Linked DNA regions of Homo sapiens: region 1 is linked to region 2. Evidence: fine-mapped expression QTL. Tissue or cell type: whole blood. Region 2 holds a variant in brackets; the other region holds the start of a gene. All regions are shown on one strand. Distances are between the middles of the regions.

Evidence for each region. PIP is the estimated chance that this variant, and not a neighbour inherited with it, causes the effect.
Region 1: it holds the start of CHCHD5, and the variant in region 2 is fine-mapped to the expression of CHCHD5 in whole blood (TOPMed, PIP 0.93).

What each region holds. Positions count from the first base shown.
Region 1 is chr2:112,579,621-112,588,677 of GRCh38, forward strand. CHCHD5 (coiled-coil-helix-coiled-coil-helix domain containing 5) reads left to right here and starts at 4,989. Exons shown (of 4, transcript NM_032309.4): 1 at 4,989-5,029; 2 at 6,354-6,494; 3 at 6,580-6,745. The coding sequence starts at 5,028. It overlaps POLR1B (RNA polymerase I subunit B), which reads left to right. Exons shown (of 15, transcript NM_019014.6): 15 at 1-198. LOC101927330 (a long non-coding RNA gene) reads right to left here and starts at 5,652. Exons shown (of 2, transcript XR_923204.3): 1 at 5,517-5,652; 2 at 3,367-4,893. RefSeq lists a silencer at 2,672-2,966 and enhancers at 4,198-5,397, 4,664-5,415, 4,713-4,882.
Region 2 is chr2:112,620,428-112,631,538 of GRCh38, forward strand. It overlaps the pseudogene RPS20P11. Among named protein-coding and RNA genes, the nearest start is that of SLC20A1-DT, 18 kb to the right of the region's middle. RefSeq lists enhancers at 4,053-4,192, 10,223-10,740. The variant T/A (reference allele first, on the strand shown) is at 5,006.

The sequences.
Region 1 (9,057 bases), 42 kb before region 2:
AGTGATATCTCATTGTGGCTTTAATTTGCATTTCTCTAATGGCTGAAAATGTTGAACATCTCTTCATGTGTTTATTTGCCATCTGTGTATCTTCAGTGAAATGTCTGCTGTTCATTTTTTAATTGGATTGTTTGTCTTCTTACTGTTGAATTTCAAGACTTCATTATATATTCCAGATATAAAGCCTTTGTCATACAAGTGCTTTGCAAATATTTTCTCCCAGTTCATAGTTTGTCTTTTCATCCTCTTCACAGGTATTTTGCAGAGAAACAAATTTAAATTTTGATGAAGCCCAATTGACAGGTTTTTGGTGTTGTGTCTAAGAACTCTTCACCTAGCCCAAAGATTTTCTCATATGTTATTTTCTAAAGGTTTTATAGTTTTATGCTTTATATTTAAATCTATGATCCATTTTCCACTTAAGAGTTCATTTTTGTACAAAGTGTAAGGTTTAGATCAAGATTTTTTTTTTTTTTTTTTTTTTTTTTTTTGCCAATAGATATCCAATTGCTCCAGGACTGTTACTTGAAAACGATCCTTTCTCTATTGAATTACTTCTGCACTTCTGTCAAAAATCAGATGGCCATAGGCCGGGTGCACTGGCTCACGCCTGTAATCCCTGCACTTTGAGAAGCTGAAGTGGGATGATTGCTTGAGCCCAGGAGTTTGAGACCAGCCTGGGCAACACAGCCAGACCCCATCTCTACTAAAAAAATTAGCCAGGCATGGTGGTGTGCACCTGTAGTCCCAGCTCCCCAGGAGGCTGAGGTGGGAGTATCGTCTAAGCCTGGGAGTCGAGGCTGCAGTGAGCCGTGATCACGCCACTGCACTCCAGCTGGAGTGACAGGGTTTAAATCAGATGGCCATACTTGTGCGGGGCTAATTTATTTTGTATTATTTCATTTTTATCTCCTTTGTTGGCTTATTAACCCTACCTCCATTTTCATTTTTTGTTGTTTCTCTTAAAATTTCTAGTGTACATCTTTAGACTTGTCACACTTTTATGTAATATTCTACCACTTCACAGGTAGTAGAACAACTTAGCAACAGCACACACTTTCCTGTCTCTTGGCCTTTGTGCTATTTTGTCATAAGAGTTATATTTACTGTATCTGGAGATCTTGATTTCATATGCCAGATTTCCATTTTCCTTCGAACTGAGAGCTTGCTTCAGTGTTTCTGAGCTTACTTAGGTGAGACCAGAGCGGCCATTAGGGCTAATTTTGCCTCACTAGACAGGCAGTATCTTTGAGTAGTTTAGCCAGTGCACAGTGATGGTCTCCACTATGGCTCCGGGGATTGCTCTGCCTGCACCTTCCTGGTAGTTCCCTTGGTTTCCAGGAGTGTGTTCACAGGCATGCTGTGCGCTACACGTGCAGGAAACCCTTTGCAGGTCTGTGCTGCGCTACTCTCTGGTACCCTGCCTTACAAACTAGCTGCCTTGGCCTCTCCAAATTCTCAACTTTGTCCCAACTCAGGGACACCCCTGGGCTATGTAGCCTAGAAACTAACTCTCCAGACATAAGCCGGGCCACTAAGGTCACTTCATTTGTCTCCTTTCTCTTGGGGACCACTGTGCTACAATGCTTGTTTCCAATGTCTGAACTCTGTTGTCTCCTATTTTGTCCAGATTTTTTAGTTGTTGATGTTTGAAGGATAAATCTACTACCTATGACATCACCACACCCGGGTAACTTTTGTACTTTTTGTAGAGACAGAATTTCGCCATGTTGCCCAGGCTGATCTCAAACTCCTGGGCTCAAGCAGTCTGGCCACCTCAGTTTCCCAAAGTGCTGAGATTTATAGGCATGAGCCACTGTACTTGGCCTATGTTTCTAACGCAGAAGCCACCACCGTATGCCACACCTGTGACTCTTTCCCATATTTGTTGTAGTAAAAGGGACTGCAGGCCAGGCGCTGTGGCTCATACCTGTAATCTCAGCACTTTGGGAGGCCGACATGGGCGGATCACGAGGTCAGGACTTTGAGACCAGCCTGGCCAATATGATGGAACCCCGTCTCTACTAAAAATACAAAAATTAGCCTGGCGTGGTGGTGCGCACCTGTAGTCCCAGCTATTTGGGAGGCTGAGGCAGAAGAATCGCTTGAACCCGGGAGGTGGAGGTTGCAGTAAGCCGAGATTGTGCCACTGCATTCCAGCCTGGGTGACAAAGCGAGATGCTGTCTCAAAAAATAAATAAAAATAAATAAATAAATAAAAGAGGCTGCAGTACATGACACACTGGCAGCACCAACTCCTGCCTGGTGGATGACATCTATCTTTAGACATCCCCACTCCAGGGTTGCTGGGGGTCCATCACCATTGTTGACACTTCTTACAGGTTATGATGTTATCATCAGTCCCAGTGCTATCAGTCAACTCTACAATCCTAGGTAGTCGTTGAATCTACAGTTGACCCTTAAACAATGCAGTAGAAAATCCACATATAACTTTTGACTCCCCCAAAACTTAACTATTAATAGCCTACTGTCGATCTGAAGTCTTACTGATGACATAGATGAACACATATTTTGTATGTTATATGCATTATATACTGTATTCTTGCAATAGTAAAGTAGAGAGAAGAAACTGTTATTAAGGAAATCGTAAGGAAGATAAAATATACTATTCATTAAGTGGAAGTGGATCATCATAAAGGCCTTCATCCTTGTCCTTTTCACATTGAGTAGGCTGAGGAGAGGAAGGGGGGTTGGTCTTGCTGTCTCAGAGTGACAGCGGCAGAAGAAAATCTGAGTATAAGTGGACCAGTACAGTTTAAATCCATGTTGTTCAAGGGTGAACTGTAAACTGTTTGATTTAATGGGCAACCCACGCACCCAAGTGGTTATAAGTGGTACTACAAAATGTATTATAAAAATACCGTAGAATTTTTTTTTTTTTTTTGAGACAGAGTCATGCTCTGTCACCCAGGCTGGAGTGCAGTGGTGTGGTCTCGGCTCACTACAACCTCCGCAGCAATTCTCGTGCCTCAACCTCCTGAGTAGCTCCAGGACTACAGGTGCCTGCCACCATCCCTGGCTAATTTTTTGTATTTTTTGTAGAGACACGGTTTCACCATGTTAGCCAGGCTGGTCTCGAACTCCTGACCTCAAGCGATTCGCCCACCTCGACCTCCCAAAGTGCTGGGATTACAGGCGTGAGCCACTGCACCCAGCTGAACACAATCTGTACCTTCCATGTACTGATTTATGTCTTTGTCTGTAACTCCTGTCCACCTAAAATGTACAAAACCAAACTGTAATTCTACTGTCTCAGGCACACTTTCTCAGGACCTCTTGAGCCTGTGTTCCCCAGGCCATGGTCACTCATATTGGCTCAAAATAAATCTCTTTAAAACATTTCAGTTTGGTTTTTCTGTTAACAGGTGGTTAATTTTTCCTAGTTCTTTAATGAGATCCCTAGAAACCGGGTTTAAGACAATTGATTTTTTTTTTTTGCTTTCTCGGTCAGATAATTTCAGAAACTCCCTCCCTGTGCACCTGTGGGCATTCCCACTTCCACACACCAACAAGACAAGGTTAGACAGATCTTCTAAGGCAGCTTCTAAGGCCTTTCAGCATGTCAAAATGCATCTTTGGGGTATCCGTTTCTGAGTACCAACAAGGGAACGGAATGGGTTAAGATTTCATTCTCTCAGTAGAGGAAAATCTAGGGATTCATTCTACATTTGAAGCCAAAAACAGTTATCTGACTCCTTCCAGAGCCTTTAAATGTTGATCCCTTCCCCTCTTCTCCCATCAAACATACACTTGGAAGTTTAAGAAGAATGGAGGGATCTCAAGGTGTAAAGTTTTCTTTCTGTGCGATGACCAGTGCTGGTCCTCGGATGTCAACTGCCAACCAGGGTAGCTCATGGTTACAACCTCCCGTACAGCTCTCACTTATCCAGAACTACTGAGGCTCCAAGCTCAGTATCAAACTGTTCACTTGCACTATGTCCTCTATGATGTCACTGTCATCATCATTTTACAGACACACTGCGACTCCAAGTGGTCGTTACTAGTTCACAATCAAGTAGCTCTCGTTCATCTTCTCGTTCATCTTCAACTCTATGATTAACTGCAAAATGTTCTGCTCATTTTGACTAGAGTCTTGAAAGATCTGCAAACGAAACGGCAGGACTGATGCTCAGTTCTCTGACCAGGGGATATCCAGTCTCTTATGTGGGGAAACTCACGCCCAGGTCTAACCTCACACTTTTAAGACAGATGAGAAGGAAGGGGGAAATGTTGCTACATTAGGAGGAATTAATTACAAAGAGAGGAAGTAACTAGCTTGATAGTCTCATGGAGTCAGGATTAAACGCCATGTCTGTCCTGGCGTACGCTAAGGGATGGGGAAACGTCTGGGTCCCAGGCTGGGTAAATGGCAGGCCCAAGCCGAATTAGTTCGGCTCTTGGTTTGACTCCCTCTTCCCTCCTGTTCCAAGCGCTCGCATGAACCTGGGTGCCAGGGGGATTATCAGCGTCTGCGCAAGGCCGATGGTGGCAGCGCGGCGTTAGGAATCAGGCCCCCTATCCCTGAGCCCAACAGCCTACCGCTACAGCACCCAACGAAAATGGGAACAACATGTTGAGACGCTGCAGCAACAGCAGGCGCTTCCCACCAGCTACAGTCGGAGATTTGGAGCGCTTGTGTCTGAGGCTCAATCCCGTCAGGTGCCGCGCAACTCAGCGGCGCATTCTCTTTGGACCCGAGGCACCACCATACTTTCCATTGCTTACTTCCGTTAAACCCCGAGCGCTGCCATGGCAAGCCGGAAATAGGGATGAAGCAATTTAGCCAGAAGAGGGCGGAAGTGGCTACTCAGGGCGCCGCCATGACGAGCCGGGCCGGAAGAAGAGGTAGGGCGCCGCCGTGACAGATTAGTCCTAAAGGGAACGGGGTTGTTAGTTCAATTGGCTACCGGAAAAAACCAGGCTGGGCTGGGCGCCGCCATGACAACCGATACCGGAAAAGGCGGGTCGTTCCCCCCGGACAGCCCTACGCCGGCAAAGGTCTCGAGATGTGAGTAGTGAGAGCGCCTACCCCATACGTGCTGCCGCTCCCCTTCTTTTACCCAGTGATCTAGACCTAGTCTAGGACCTCGGGAACTAGGACCAGCCTCCCTCCTTCTTGGAGATCTGACCCTCAGGATTCAGCGCCTTCGCTCACGAGCTCCAACCCTCCGCATGCCCAAGCCCCGCCCTCTAAGCGTTTAGGCCTCGCCCCCTCTCGCGCTGCTTAGGACTTCGGTCCAGTCACTCTTCACCCAATCTCTGCCCCCAGTACCCCAGGTCCGGCCTTCACACTGAAATCCTAAGACTACAGACTTATTTAGGGACCTCTATGACTCCTACACCCATCCTCAGAGCTCCAGGTTCCTCCCCCTTGATCACCAAACTTTACCTTTTGAACCTTCCAGATCTGCCTGGGACCCCAGTCCTCACCTATAGGGTCCACAGACTTGTTCCTAGACCACTCTGACCTTGCCCAGGATTCCCAGAGCACCAACCTCATCCAGGGCTTCCAGACTTCACGCCCCTGGGACCTTGAGTCCCGCACCAGGGCCTTAGGTTTCATCTTGAAGACTCTTTGGCTAAGACACTCTTCCCCAGGACCTGAGACCCCACCTCTTGGAGCTCTAAACCTCACTTTTAGAACCCCCAAACCCATTAAGGGCTCTCAAGCTCTCCCTGGAATTCTAGATCTTTCTTCTAAGGCCCCAAGTCTTCTGTGCATGATCCCCAGGCCTACTGGGGGATGCCTGGATTTCAAGGCCTGTCTTCTAGGACCCTGAAGGCCTACCTTACATTAATCAGACTTTGTTTTAGAACCTCCACTCTCTCCCCAGAAGCTCCCCTCCTGCTTTACAAGCCCCAGGGCTGGGCCTCACCTCTCCACTTCTTTGGCACCATCTCAGGATCCTTCAGATTCCCACATCTGCCCTGAACTCCTAGTCCTACTTCAGACCCAGACCAGAACTCCCTTTCTTTGCGGAGCACCATAGCTTATGCCTGTAATCCTAGCACTTTGGGAGGTCTAAGCAGGGGGATCGCTTGAGCCCAGGGGTTCAATACCAGCCTCGGCAACATAGCAAGACCCTGTCTCTACAAAACATAAAAAATTAGCTGGGCATGGTGGCTCATGCCTGTGGTCCCAGCTACTTAGGAGGTTGGGGCAGGAAGATCACTTGAATCCAGGAGTTGGTGGCTACAGTGAGCTATGATCGTGCCACTGCACTCCAGCCTGGGCCACAGTGAGACCCTGTCTCTAAAAAATAAAAAAAAAAAAAAGAATTCCCTTGCTTGCCTACTGCCTGGAATGATCCTCAGCCCATCCTGTCCCACAGGCAGGCGGCCCTAGAGGTCACCGCTCGCTACTGTGGCCGGGAGCTGGAGCAGTATGGCCAGTGTGTGGCGGCCAAGCCGGAATCCTGGCAGCGGGACTGTCACTACCTTAAGATGAGCATTGCCCAGTGCACATCCTCCCAGTGAGTGCGGGCAAGTATGAGACAGTGTGGGGGGTGGGCAGTGGGGTGGGAATCTCCCAGGGGCTGAACTGCCCTACCCCCACAGCCCAATCATCCGCCAGATCCGCCAGGCCTGTGCTCAGCCTTTTGAGGCCTTCGAGGAGTGTCTTCGACAGAACGAGGCAGCTGTGGGCAACTGTGCAGAGCATATGCGCCGCTTCCTGCAGTGCGCTGAGCAGGTGCAGCCGCCACGCTCACCTGCAACTGTGGAGGTAAGAGGGGCTCACCTCAGTTCATCTCTTTTCTCCATAACATCCCCTTCATCCTTCTGGTTGTTCAGGGTAAAGACTTTGGAGTCATCCTCAGCCCCACCCCATCACCACACAGGCCTTTGCCATGCATCCAGAATCCAGAACATCATCACTTCTTGCCCCATATAGCCCCTGCTTTAATCCACCACCACCCTCACCCTCCACCTCCAGGATACCTGCCCCAGCCTTCTCCCTGGTCTCCCTTCCTCCCTCTTTTCTTGCCTCCATAAAGCGGCCTGGGTGAGCATGTAAGGACTGAAATCTGGTCTCATCACACCTATGCTTAAAGCTCTCCAGTGGCTTTGTGTCACATTGAGAACAAAAGTCCAGGTCCTTGCTGGGTTCTCTGTGTTCTTCCCTAGGCTGACTTCATCTGCCTCCTGCCTCACCCTCTCTCTTCTTTCTCACTACTCCTCATCTGCAACTGCAGAGGGGCTGGGCTGGGGTGGCCAAAAAAAGGTCACTCTTTTAAATGTATCTAATATGTAAACCAGATATACAGTATATCTGTGATATGTAAGTTTCATGGTTGGGCAATTAGAACAAAAGTCTAAAATGACTCCTTGAGGAGAGGCAGTAACGGAAAAAGGTTGAAAAATGCTCTTTTAGATGTTTACTACCCTCCTCACTGGACTGTGAGCTCCAAAGGTGAAAGTCACATCTTTCCCCAGCCCCTGTGAGTACCCTCTCCTGGGGCCCTCTCTCTGCCCCTGCAGCCCTGGCTTCTCTCTTGGGCCACCTGGCCATCCTTCTCCTGGGCCCCATGCTCCATCTTGACTTTCCAGTCATTCTTGGTGATCATCCTAGACTGATCTCAGAGGAAATCTGACCATGTTCTGCTTCTACTTACAAACCTTTCCATGGTTCTCAATTCCACCAGCCCAAGTCTTAATGCCAGCACAGCCCACAGGGCCCTGTGGGATGCAGTCCCTGCGACCCGTGGTCCCACCTCTCCTCTCTTTCCCCCTTAAGCTCTATGTTCCAGCCCCAGTGAACATGCAGTTACTCAAGTGCACGTCTCCGCTGCTTTTGTCCAGCTGTTTCCCTCTGCTGGGACTGCCCTTCCTAATCCATCTCCTGGCTAATTCCTATTCCAGCTTAGACGGCACGTCTCTCAGAAAACCTCCCTGATGTCCCACCCACTTCCCGCCCCTGTCTTCAAGTTCCCAAGGTCCCTGAGCCCCTCCATCAAGGCTCACATCCTATGCCTGTGTCAAGGGAGCTCTTGGCTGAAGATTGGGGTGATGCCCTTCTTACCAGGCCCTATAGGCATTAATTGTTTCTGTAAGGCAAGGATAAGTGAATAGTTCAGACCCCTAGGGCAGAAACTACGACCCCTGAGAGCCGGAAGGAACTTAATTCTCCTCAGGAAACGTTACCTAACGATCACATACTGTTCTCAGTCAGCTGCTGGGGACATTTCTGTCTTTCAAGTTTTTTGGGCATCTGAACAGTAAAGACCCCATCCTCCTATCTTAGAGCCATTTGCTGCTTCCCTCCCTGGACCAGCAACCAGCCTCTCTCTGGTCTCCTTGTGGCCACCCCTGCCCTGACAGTCTTCTCTTCCCTGGCAGCCAAAGAAGCTTTTAAAAATGGGAATTAGGGCCGGGTGCGGTGGCACATGCCTGTAATCCCAGCACTTGGGGAGGCCGAGGTGGGTGGATCACCTGAGGTCAGGAGTTTGAGACCAGCCTGGCCAACATGGTGAAACCCCATCTCTACTAAAAATACAAATATTAGCCAGGTGTGGTGGCAGGTACCTGTAATCCCAGCTACTTGGGAGGCTGAGGCAGGAGAATTGCTTGAACCCAGGAGGCAGAGGTTGCAGTGAGCCAAGATTGCACCATTGCACTCTAGCCTGGGCGATAGAGCGAGACTCTGTCTTCCAAAAAAAAAAAAAAAAGGGAATTAGGTCACATCTCCTCATCATCCCCTCCTTCCTGGGGATGGCATCCCAGTTACAGTTTTTCCTTCCTAGCTAGGGGCAGTGAGATTTGTTGTCTGGTCTACACAATAGCGAACACAAACATTCTCATCTCCTGCAGCATGGCATACAGACTTTACAGAATGTCCTGTGTTTTTGTGGCTGACAATCAAAGTGGTACATGTCCCTCCCATTCCGCACACACCTCTGCTCTTTACCCTGATTAAATTTTCTTCATCGAATTTCTTGGATGTTGACATATTTATTGTCCGTCTCTCCCTGCTTGAGTCAGAGAGTTTTGCCTGCTGGGTACACGGCAGGTGCTCAGTAAATATAGCAGAATGGCGCG
Region 2 (11,111 bases):
CTGGAGGTGCTGGCACAAAATGTTCCTCTGGGATCAAGGGATGTCTGGCCATCTTGTAATGCCATTATGTGACTCTTTTGATGCCTGATGACCCCATTCTACAGAGTAGCCAGTCACTGGCACTTGTAGCTGAAAAGGATCATTAGAGCTAACTGGCCTGAGCAGAGTGCAGTCTGTACAGTCTGCCGGACACTGCTTTTTTTTTTTTTTTTTTAAGATGGAGTCTCACTCTGATGCCAGGCTGGAGTGCAGGGACTTGATCTTGGCTCACTGCAACCTCCACCTCCCGGGTTCAAGCGATTCTCCTGCCTCAGCCTCCCGAGTAGCTGGGACTACAGGCACACGCCACAATGCCCAGCTAATTTTTGTATTTTTAATAGAGATGAGGTTTCACCATGTGGCCCAGGATGATCTTGATCTCTTGACCTCGTGATCTGCCCGCCTCGGCCTCCCAAAGTGCTGCGATTACAGGCATGAGCCACTGTGCCTGGCCTGGACACTGTTCTTAAGCACGCTGGACCCTGCCAGCTCTTTTCCTCAGTGCAGTGGTCTTTTCCCCGCCTGTACTGCTTCACCCACACCACATGGCTGGGCTCAGGGAGCCCAGTGGGTCCTGGATGTGCTCTCATCCCACTAATGCTGTTCTCACTGTAGCATTTTTCCAAAGGCAACATCACTTGCCATTATGGACAGAAGTATTACATATCCTTAGAACAGGCTGTGTGTCCCTACACTGGGAAGGGTGCATGACCTTGGGTAAGACTGTTCCTGTGGGCCAAGGACATTCTTGGAAGAGGTTTCACCTGTGAATCATTAGCAGTCCATACTCTAGCAGCTCATGGAATCACTGCTTAGGTCCTGATGGGAAATTCTGAGAGGTATCCAAAGGTTCACTACACATTGTAAAGTCGTAGATGTGGAGCCCACACTGCCACCATAATTAAGGCTGCGGCAGGTCTTTCCACTACCTTCTGTGAAGCTGCCTGCTGCTAGGAGATGTGGCATGTAGTAAGCAGGAACTCCATAGCCATGGCCCATAGCTTAACATCTTTTATCATGAAAACATGCCCATGGACAAATAATTTGTATGTAAGACATCATTGCAATTGAATAAGCATTTGTAAATCTATGAATATATGGTGCTGGAGGAAGTGCTGTGGGCGGGATAAGCAAACCCATGAATATGTTTGTGTTAATCCACCTTCATTCTCCACCAACATTTGCCTCTTGCACTGACCAAATAGGTGAGGTAATAATGGTGTTATGGAAATCAGTAGCCCTGCATCTTTCAAATCTTTATGGAACTAATTTCTGCAATGTCATCAGGCACAGAATTGTTTTTTTTTTAACAACTGGTAATCAATTTATTAAAATAGTTGACTTAAGCATCTGCAATGGTAACTTCCACCTCAACTCCTGGCTCAATACTGATGGAAGTAATCTGCTTAACAATCTCAGAAGGACTGTGCAAGTCAATGAGTCGCTTGTGAATTCTCATCTGGAAATGATCCCAGGTCTTAGAATCTTCACCACAAGTAGTTTTTCTTGTAGTGATTCTCAAAGTCTTGGCAGGCATTCGAACTGGTCCTTTCACTTTGAGATTCTTTTCCTTTGCGCCTCTGATTAAGTCATCACACACCTTTTCCAGGGATTTTACATTGCGGCTTGTTAGGGTGATTCGAATTTGGTGAATGGCCACCTCCGGCTCCACGGGTGTTTTCCGGTATCCTTAAAAGCCAAGGCTGCTGCGCGGCTTCCTGACCGACTTGTTCCTCGGCGAGAGTGAACAGCGGTAAGTCAGGAGCAGGAGCGTCTGAACGAGAAATCCTCAGCACCTACGACCGCGTCTTCCTCCACAGAATTGTTTTTAGGTTATTATCTTGGTTGTAGGTGGCCCTTTCAAGGATTCTAACTGGGCATTCCCACCATGACAGACCGCATTCCTCGGATAAGGACAGCAAGGCTGGCAAAATAGCCACACGGTGTGCCTGGGATCCTACCTGACCCACTGTGAGGTGGACTCTGGCCAAGACCTGTCTATCCCCTGACCTCCCTAAGCCTCTCTCCAATTGACCATAGAGATTCCAGGGATTAGGCTCAGATAATACCAGTATCTACACATGTGGCTTCCAGTAAAATGAGCACAGACTGAGATTACAGAACCCAATTCCTGGCCCTCTCTGCTGCTAAATATCTATCAGGAAAGATCCTCCCTGAGCTTGCTTACTCATCTGTAAGTTGGAGCCAAAAATGTTCTTTGGATCGTGTGTCATTTGTGCAGATGTGATAAGATTACACACGTCAAGTGCTTTACACATTGCCTAATAAGTACCATTCACCGTTTCTTCTGCAGAGTGTAAAGAGGAAGATAAATTATCTATTACTATTTAGCAGTATTTTAATAACTTTTATGCACTTTTAATTTATTTCCAAATTTTTTCTTTTCTTTTTTTTTTCTTTTCTTTTCTTTTTTTTTTTTTTTTTTTTCAGTAGAGACAGAGACTCTCTTTGCTGCCCAGGATGGAATGCAGTGGCAGTCATAGCTCACTGAAGGCTTGAACCTCTGGGCTCAAGTGATTTTCCTGCCTCAGCTTTCTGAGTAGCTGGGACTATAAGCATGCACCACCATGCCTTACTATTTCTTTTCTCTTTTCTTTTCTTTTTTTTTTTTTTTTTTTTGAGACGGAGTCTCGCTCTGTCACCCAGGCTGGAGTGCGGTGGCTTGATCTCGGCTCACTGCAACCTCCACTTCCCAGGTCCAAGTGATTCTCCTGCCTCAACCTCCCAAGCAGCTGGGACTACAGGCGTGTGCCACCATGCTCAGCTAATTTTTGTATTTTTAGTATATTGGTCAGGCTGGTCTTGAACTCCTGACCTCGTAATCCACCCACCTTTGCCTCCCAAAGTACTGGGATTACAGGGTGAGGCACCACGCCCAGCCACCTGGCTATTTCTTAAAAAAAATTTGTAGAGATGGGGTCTTGATATGTTGCCTAGGCTCAAATTTTGTCATCTTTTAGATAACAGGATTTGGGGCTGGGTGCAGTGGTTCACACCTGTAATCCCAGCACTTGGGGAGGCCTAGGTGGGCAGATCATGAGGTCAGGAGTTCGAGACCAGCCTGGCCAATATGGTGAAACTCTATCTCTACTAAAAATGCAAAAATTAGCCGGGCATGATGGCGGGCGCCTGTAATCCCAGCTACTCAAAAGGCTGAGGTGCGAGGAGAATTGCTTGAACCCGGGAGGCAGAGGTTGCAGTGAGCTGAGATTGTGCCATTGCACTCCAGCCTGGGCGACAGAGCGAGACTCTGACTCAAAAAAAAAAAACCAAAAAAAATTTAAAAAAAAATTAAAAAACAAAACAAAACAGGATTTAGGGATAAGAATTTAGGACTAAGTCAATTTTCTATGAATATTCTTACATGTCAAATTTCGAAGGCCCAGACTCAAATGACTTGATTCTTATTTTCAAATAATTGGGCTGTAAGATTTATCTGTTACTTCTTAACATATAATTTGTACACCTGTCTAGGATTTAACTTGGAAAAGATTTTTCAAAACTTGGTACGATTATATAAAATGTGTGCTTATGACCATAGCTGGTAGGCATGTGAGATGGTAAGGCATTTCCGCAGAGCAGAGGTTCATAAAAGCTTTATCATGCATCAGAGCTATCCGGAAGGCTTTTTAAAACACAGATTGCTCAGCTGGGCGCAGTAGGGTGCGCCTGTAGTCCTAGCTACTTGGGAGGCTGAGGCAGAAGGATCTTTTGAGCCCTGGAGTTTGAGGCTACAGCATGCTATGATTGTGCCTGTGAATAGCCACTGCACTCCAGCCTGGGCGGCCTAGCAAGACCCTGTCTCTAAAACAATAACATCAACTAAAACAAAAACCACGCAGATTGCTGGACCCCAACCTAGAGTTTCTGATCCAGTAGTATTGGGGTGGGGCCTGAGAATTTGCATTTCTGACAAGTCCCCAGATGATGTTGATCCTTATTCTCCTGGCCCATAGACCACTTAATTAAAGCCAGCAAAGTAGTCATCAACGTTGACCCAGGATATAAGCTGAAGATGATGAACAGCCTTGAGGCAGTAAGGGAGGCCTGCCCTCCAACATCAGGAAGCCAAGTGAAGGCGTGACTCACCAGGGCAGGGTGGGGTTCCTGCGTGTGAGAAACCAGAATTGAGAGCTGCACCAGCTGTGTGGCCCCAGGTTTCTCAGGGTGAGGAGAGGCAGCCCAGGGGAAAGGCACTCGGGACCACACCCCAACTCACCTACCCTGTGTAAGTTTTTTCCATTGCATGTATCAACATCTAACATGTCATATATTTGATTTACCTCATTTATTCTCTGACTCCTTGCCTCCTGTTAGAATATAGGTTCTCTAGAACAAGGATTTTTATATGTTTTATAGAAGAACAGTAACTGAATCATAGCAGGTGTTCAAATACTGACTGAATGCATGCCTATATACATATAACTATGTTCATGATACTGTTTCTAGAAGGATCCACAAGAAAATGGCAGCAGACTGTCTCTGGGCAAGGGAAATGGAGGAATGGGTGGGGCAACTAAAACTTTTTACTGACTCTATAGCTCTTTGAATTTTTCCTTTTTTTTTTTTTTTTTTTGAGATGGAGTCTTGCTGTGTCACCCAGGCTGGAGTGCACTGGCGCAATCTTGGCTCACTGCAACCTCTGCCTCCGGGGTTCAAGCAATTCTCCTGTCTCAGCCTCCCGAGTAGCTGAGATTACAGGCATGCATCACCATGCCCGGCTCATTTTTGTATTTTTAGTAGGGACAGGGCGGGAGTGGGGGAGGGTTTCACCATGTTGGCCATGTTGGCCAGGCTGGTCTTGAACTCTTGACCTTGTGATCCACCCGACTCAGCCTCCCAAAGTGCTGGGATTACAGGTGTGAGCCACAGCGCCCAGCCGAATTTTTCCTATGTATCTCATCTAGCTAATCAAAAACAGATCTCTATTGTTGATTAGGAAATA[T/A]AAATTGGAAGAGAAATAGGTATAATAGGAAAAACCTGAGGGAGCCCCATTCCCCCTCCCCAAATCTGGTGAGATCATTGTGTAGAGCTAAGTGAGAACGCCTGAAATATGCTTGAAGAAACGTTCATCTTTGATGGGGCATTCAGCTCAGTCTCATGCAGCCCTACCCCAGCCCCAAACTGGGCCTGGTCCTATCCCAGGACAACCCTAGGGGGGCCCCAGAGTTCCCTCCTAGAAACCAGAAGTTCCCAGCCCTTCCTGCTGCCCACCCCACCCCATGGACACGTGCCCATGTGTCAAGTAACAACAGTTAATAGTGAAGTGGGCTAGAAACACCCTGTGGCTGCCTCAGGAAGGAGAGAATATCTCTAAGTCCAGTGAGCTCAAGGTGGAACAAGAATCCAGGTGTTCAAAGGGAAGGCAGAAGGAAATGATGAGAGAAAAGGGGGATTTGTGCTCATCTCAGCAGGAACCTGGGTTGGGGCTGAGGAACTAGGAGAAGCCATGCCCCGGGGAGCCTGGAGGAAGATGCCCAGGCCAGAGCACCAGCTTGGAATTGGGAGAGCCAGGCAGGACCCCGAGTAGACATTAGGGGTTAGCGTCTGTTAGAGGAAGTTGAGGAAGAAAAACAATAAAGTTGCCCTTCCAAACAAGACAGAAGCAGTTTCTACCGTAGGTAACCGCTGGCCTAGTTATTTATTCAATATATATTCACTGAGCACATCGTCGTGCTAGGCCCTATGTCAGAAAAGGGATTTTGGGGCCAGGCACGGTGGCTCATGCCTATAATCCCAGCACTTTGGGAGGCTGATATTGGCAGATCGCCTGAGGTCAGGAGTTCAAAACCAGCCTGGCCAACGTAGTAAAACCCTGTCTCTAGGAAAAACACAAAAATTAGCTGGGCATGGTGGCTGGTGCCTGTAGTCCCAGCTACTCCGGAGGCTGAGGCAGGAGAATCACTTGAACCCAGGAGGCGGAAGTTGCAGTGAGCTGAAATTGCACCACTGCACTCCAGCCTGGGTGACAGAGCGAGATTCTGTCTCAAAACAAAAAAGAAAAAAGAAAGGGATTTTAATTAAATGCAGACTTACAGGACCTGAGACTACCTTCCTAGAGACTGAGTCTTCTTTGGAAGGCGGCAGGGATGCAGCAGCCCACAATCAAGCCATTCCCACCTCACGAATGTGGAGAATCTGAGAGGGGGTGCCTCCTTCCCCTGTGGGATTTTCTGTGGTCTCAGACCCCACAGCAGCTTCTATGCTCACCCAGCAGAGGGCAGCCTGAGCTCAGGCGCCATCTTCCCAGCACCTGCTTAGGAGACGGGACAGATGGGCACCTAGCCCCCTCACTGCCCACTGCAGGGTGGGCATGGTGCCCACTTGCTGGTGGCAGCAGCACCAGAGAAACAGGATGCACCAGGAGGCTGTAAAAAAAGGCTGTTTTTGAGTTCTCCCTAAGCCGTGATGGTGCTGCCTGGCAGATGCTCGGCCCTGGCATGCTGCCACACTCACCCTCTGTAGCATCCTGAGACTAAGGATCATCTCCTTCTCATTCCAGAGCAGCCTGCTCACCCTGCTTCTACTCCCTGTTTCTCCGAGGCATAGAATCCTCGGGAGGGACCCCAGAGCTGGAAGGGACTTGGTTGCTGCTAGTGCTGGAGTTGCCATTTCAAATAACTTCAAAGGGCAGGCAGGGAGCCTGAATTTGTGAAGCTGACTTAGGGTAAGATGGCAGGAAATGGTAGTGGCTATGCCGAACTGGAGAAAAGAGCCTTGTGCAAAGGCACCTAAATTGAATTGTTTTTCTAACTGTGAGTAAGATAAAATGCAGCCACAGGCTGAGTTGGGACATGAGTTGGCTGCCAGTTTCCTCCCTGTCCAGTTCACCCCTTAACCTTCGAGATGGGCAAACAAAGGTCCAGAGAGGGCCCAAGATAGGGCCTGATTCCCTTCTCACCAGAATCCAGTTCTGTAGTGCTGTTTATTCCTTGGGGGCACAGGGCAAATATTAAGCACAAAGAGTTGGGGGTGGTGTGGACGTCTAGCTCTGCCTGCCCCACGGCTGCTGATCAGTCTTGGATTGCTTCATTTCCTTCCTTGGCCACAGATCTCCTGTTTGGAGAAAGCAGCCTCCTCCAGAATACAGGGCACTCCTTTTCCTCAGAGTGAGTCACAGCCTCCGAGCAGACTTGTGGACAGCTTACTCCGAGACAGAATTCTCCACTCCCACTGCTTTTTCCAATGAATACCTCCAGCGGTGGGCCTCCACTGCCTTGGGCCACCGCCCTAGGGCTGCGAACTTTAATTTACTCAGGTTTTTCCCTCCTTAAAAAGAGGTCCTACAGAGAAACACCCAGGGGTCTTTTGGCCTTGATTCTTCAGATCTCATTTAAAAAAAATAGATAGATAGATAGATAGATAGATAGATAGATAGATAGATAGATAGATAGATAGATGGATGGATGGATAGATAGATAGATTAGAAGCATAAAGTGCTGTTTTCTCATAAGGTGTGAAGGTTGCAGGAGTGTGGCTGGTACTTGTCGTGGCTCTGCAAGCACCAAGAGTGGTTCTTCAGAAATCCAGGCTTGTACCTGAATTGCCTCCATCTCCAGGAGAATCAGCAGGCCATGCTGAGCTTGATGGGGATGCTTCACTAGGGCAGGAAACCTGAACCTCAGTCTCCTGGGTAGCAGGAACTGGGTTGTGGCCCCATTACCAATCATAGAGACACCTTTGGGACCTGGGGTAAGTATTTATGATATAGCTAGTCATGTGAAGAATGAGGGGAGGATTAGGACACAACTAAGGCCACTGTCACAGAGCTCCTGCCCGCCTAGCACCTCCCAACCTCCCAACCAACATGTGCAAAAGATGGCCAGAGTCCTGAAAAACTGGTCTCGAAAGGACATTGTCTCAAGTATACCTTTGAGAGGAGGAAACAGAACATTTAGTTTTTTTTTTTTTTTTTTTTTTTTTGAGACGGAGTCTCGCTCTATTGCCCAGGCTGGAGTGCCATGGTGTGATCTCGGCTCACTTCAAGCTCCGCTTCCCGGGTTCATGCCATTCTCCTGACTCAGCCTCCCGAGTAGCTGGGACTATAGGTGCCCGCCACCATGCCCGGCTAATTTTTTGTATTTTTAGTGGAGAGGGGTTTCACTGTGTTAGCCAGGATGGTCTTGATCTCCTGACCTCGTGATCCACCTGCCTTGGCCTCCCAAAATGCTGGGATTACAGGCGTGAGCCACCAGGCCGGCCACATTTACCTATTTGTTCAAGGAAAAAGAAACAGAAAAAGAAAAAAACAGAGATGGATGAGATTAGCTACCTGCAGGGCATGGTAGGAACAGGATGGAAATAAAGGGAATGAGGGGGAATGAGACTTCTAGGAATATCTCTTTTTGTTTATTTTATTTTATTTTTAGCAGAGATGTGGGTTCCTTATGTTGCCCAGCTGGTCTTGAACTCCTGGGCTCCAGCTATCCTCCTGCCTCCATCTCCCAAAGTGCTGGGATTACAGGTGTGAGCTACCGCACCCGATCCTCTTTTTGTTCTGAACTGACTTTTAAAATCATTTTAATATTTCACATCTCAAAAATAAATACAAATAAAACTCACAAGGACAGGGAAAACGCTAAAGTTGAACACAAGCAGAAACAAGCAAATAAAATGTACCCTTTGACTTCTATCTTACCACTTTGTAGTAAAAATAACTAATCCCAGTAACATGTTAAACTTTTTCTAGTTTAACCCTTGCAGCATCCCTAAATGGTAGGTACGATGACTAGTCTAGTTTTACAAAAGGGGAATTGCCCTTTAGGAAGGAGGCAAAGGAAGCTCCCAAGCTCCCAGGGACTTGAACTCAGATTTTGCACCAGATTTATATTAGATCTCAATTCCGAAATCCTATTACATCCTCAGCTCTGAGCCAGGCACAGAAGGATGATTTAGTGTCTCTGAGTTCCAAGAATCTACAACACTTAAAATCTCAGTGACAAACATTTAACATCCTGAGGTTATACATAAGGGAATGAATAATTCCTTTATGATTCATAAAGATTTAAAGACCAGGCCGAGCATGGTGGCTTACGCCTGTAATTCCAGCATTTTGGGAGGCCGAGGTGGCTGGATCACAAGGTCAGGAGTTCGAGACCAGTCTGGCCAACATGGTGAAACGCTGTTTCTACTAAAAATTCAAAAAATGAGCTGGGCATGATGGCGGGTGCCTGTAATCCCAGCTACTCGGGAGGCTGAGGCAGGAGAATCTCTTGAACCCAGGTGGCAGAAGTTGCAGTGAGCCAAGATCACACCACTGCACTCCAGCCCTGGTAACAGTGCGAGACTCTGTCTCAAAAACAAAACAAAACAAAAAGATTTAAAGACCAAAAAGATTTTAGGAATTCTGGGCACTCTGTGTGGGCTGCTTTCTTGGAGGATATAGGATTTTAGGTAGGTATAGAAAAGGAGACAGAGAATTCCGGAGAGCAGAAGACACTTGGGGCAAAGGGTTAAAAGGGGCTTGGCGTGTTAAGAGCAAAGGAGACCGGCTTCTGCATGGGAACGAACAACACAGAAGGACGTCCGTCACGCTGCTGGATGACTCTTAATATAAGAGTTCCAAGTCAAGGCGAACATCATGGAAGGAAGAAGTCCACAATGAGGCTGGGGTGAGGTTGGTAAATTCCAGTCCCTAACTTTAGCCCTTAGACAGCTACATTTAGATATTGGATATTTGCCACCCCTTTCAATTACTGGGCTCCAAGAGATTACCTAGGAGAAGGCAGACTCTATATTCTGGATCTGCGACTAAAAAATGTTTTTGCACAAAACGTTTGCTCCTTTAGTTGTTTTTGCTTTTCTCTTTTGTCTCTACTTTCTAAGCCACTCCCTGTTTGCTGAGCTGAAAAGCAAGTTCTCAGCCCTGCTGTCTCTTTCTAAAGCCAGCTTGCCTGTAGCCCCCAGGGGTGAGGAGAGGTGTTAGAAGAAAACACTTCTCCCCTTCTGGGTCCCTTCCGCAGCTGGAGTTGGTGCACAGTGGGGATAATGAGAAAAAATAGGAAAGCAAAAAGGCTTTGTGGGAAAGGAAGGTGGCCACATACCAACGCTGGGTCTAGCTGGAGGGCAAGCAGGAAACATGAACAAAATGAAAACATGGAGAATTCCTATCAGACCACTGCTTCACGGCATCCTAAGTTTTAATCAGGACGAATGTTCAGATAAACCCAAAAAATCCTTGAAACGAGGACAAATGCAACATTTGGCCCTCAAGTCGCTGCCTCCCATTGTCATCCCCTTTTGAAACAACAAAAAATATCACACATGTCTGACCTGCCTGGCCAACATGGTGAAACCCTGCCTCTACTAAAAGTACAAAAATTAGCCGGGTATAGTGGCAGGTGCCTGTAATCCCAGCTACTCGGGAGAGGCTGAGGCAGCAGAATTGCTTGAATCTGGAAGGCGGAGGTTGCAGTGAGCTGAGATTGTGCCACTGTGTGTGTGTGTGTGTGTGTGTGTGTGTGTGTGTGTGTGGTGTATACACACACACACACATATATATCTCCCACATCTCCCACAAGATAAAGTCAATATCTGGTCCGCTTTGATCGTTTCCTCCCTGTCATCATTGCCCCTGTGTCCCTCCTGGCACCTCTGCCCAAGCCTGGTCCAGCAGCCCCTTGCCCTGGATTCCCACACCAGGCTACAGCTGTCCATCCACGCCCCCATCCCCTCCGAGAACACGCTTCCTCCTGCAGCCCGCTTCAGGACCAGCCCACACACCACCTCCTCCAGGGGCACTGGGGTTCCTGGAAGGTGCTGGCTCCTCCTCCCAACTCCAGGCACCCTGACGCCACTTTGTCAGTGTGGTTTTCACATCCTGTCCTAGCGGTATGTTTGTCTTTTCGCCCCCAGATTCACAGCTTCCTAAGTGAAGGAGCCAAGTCTTGCTCTTTTCTTTACCCTAGAACAAGATACAGTTTCTGATCATACTTAATATTTGATGAACAGATGTTTTCCTTTAAACGTTTAAAGTTTAACTTTTAAAATCTCAGTAAGAAATACATCTGACATTACCACCCAGACTCATACACACATGTCACTGAATCAAA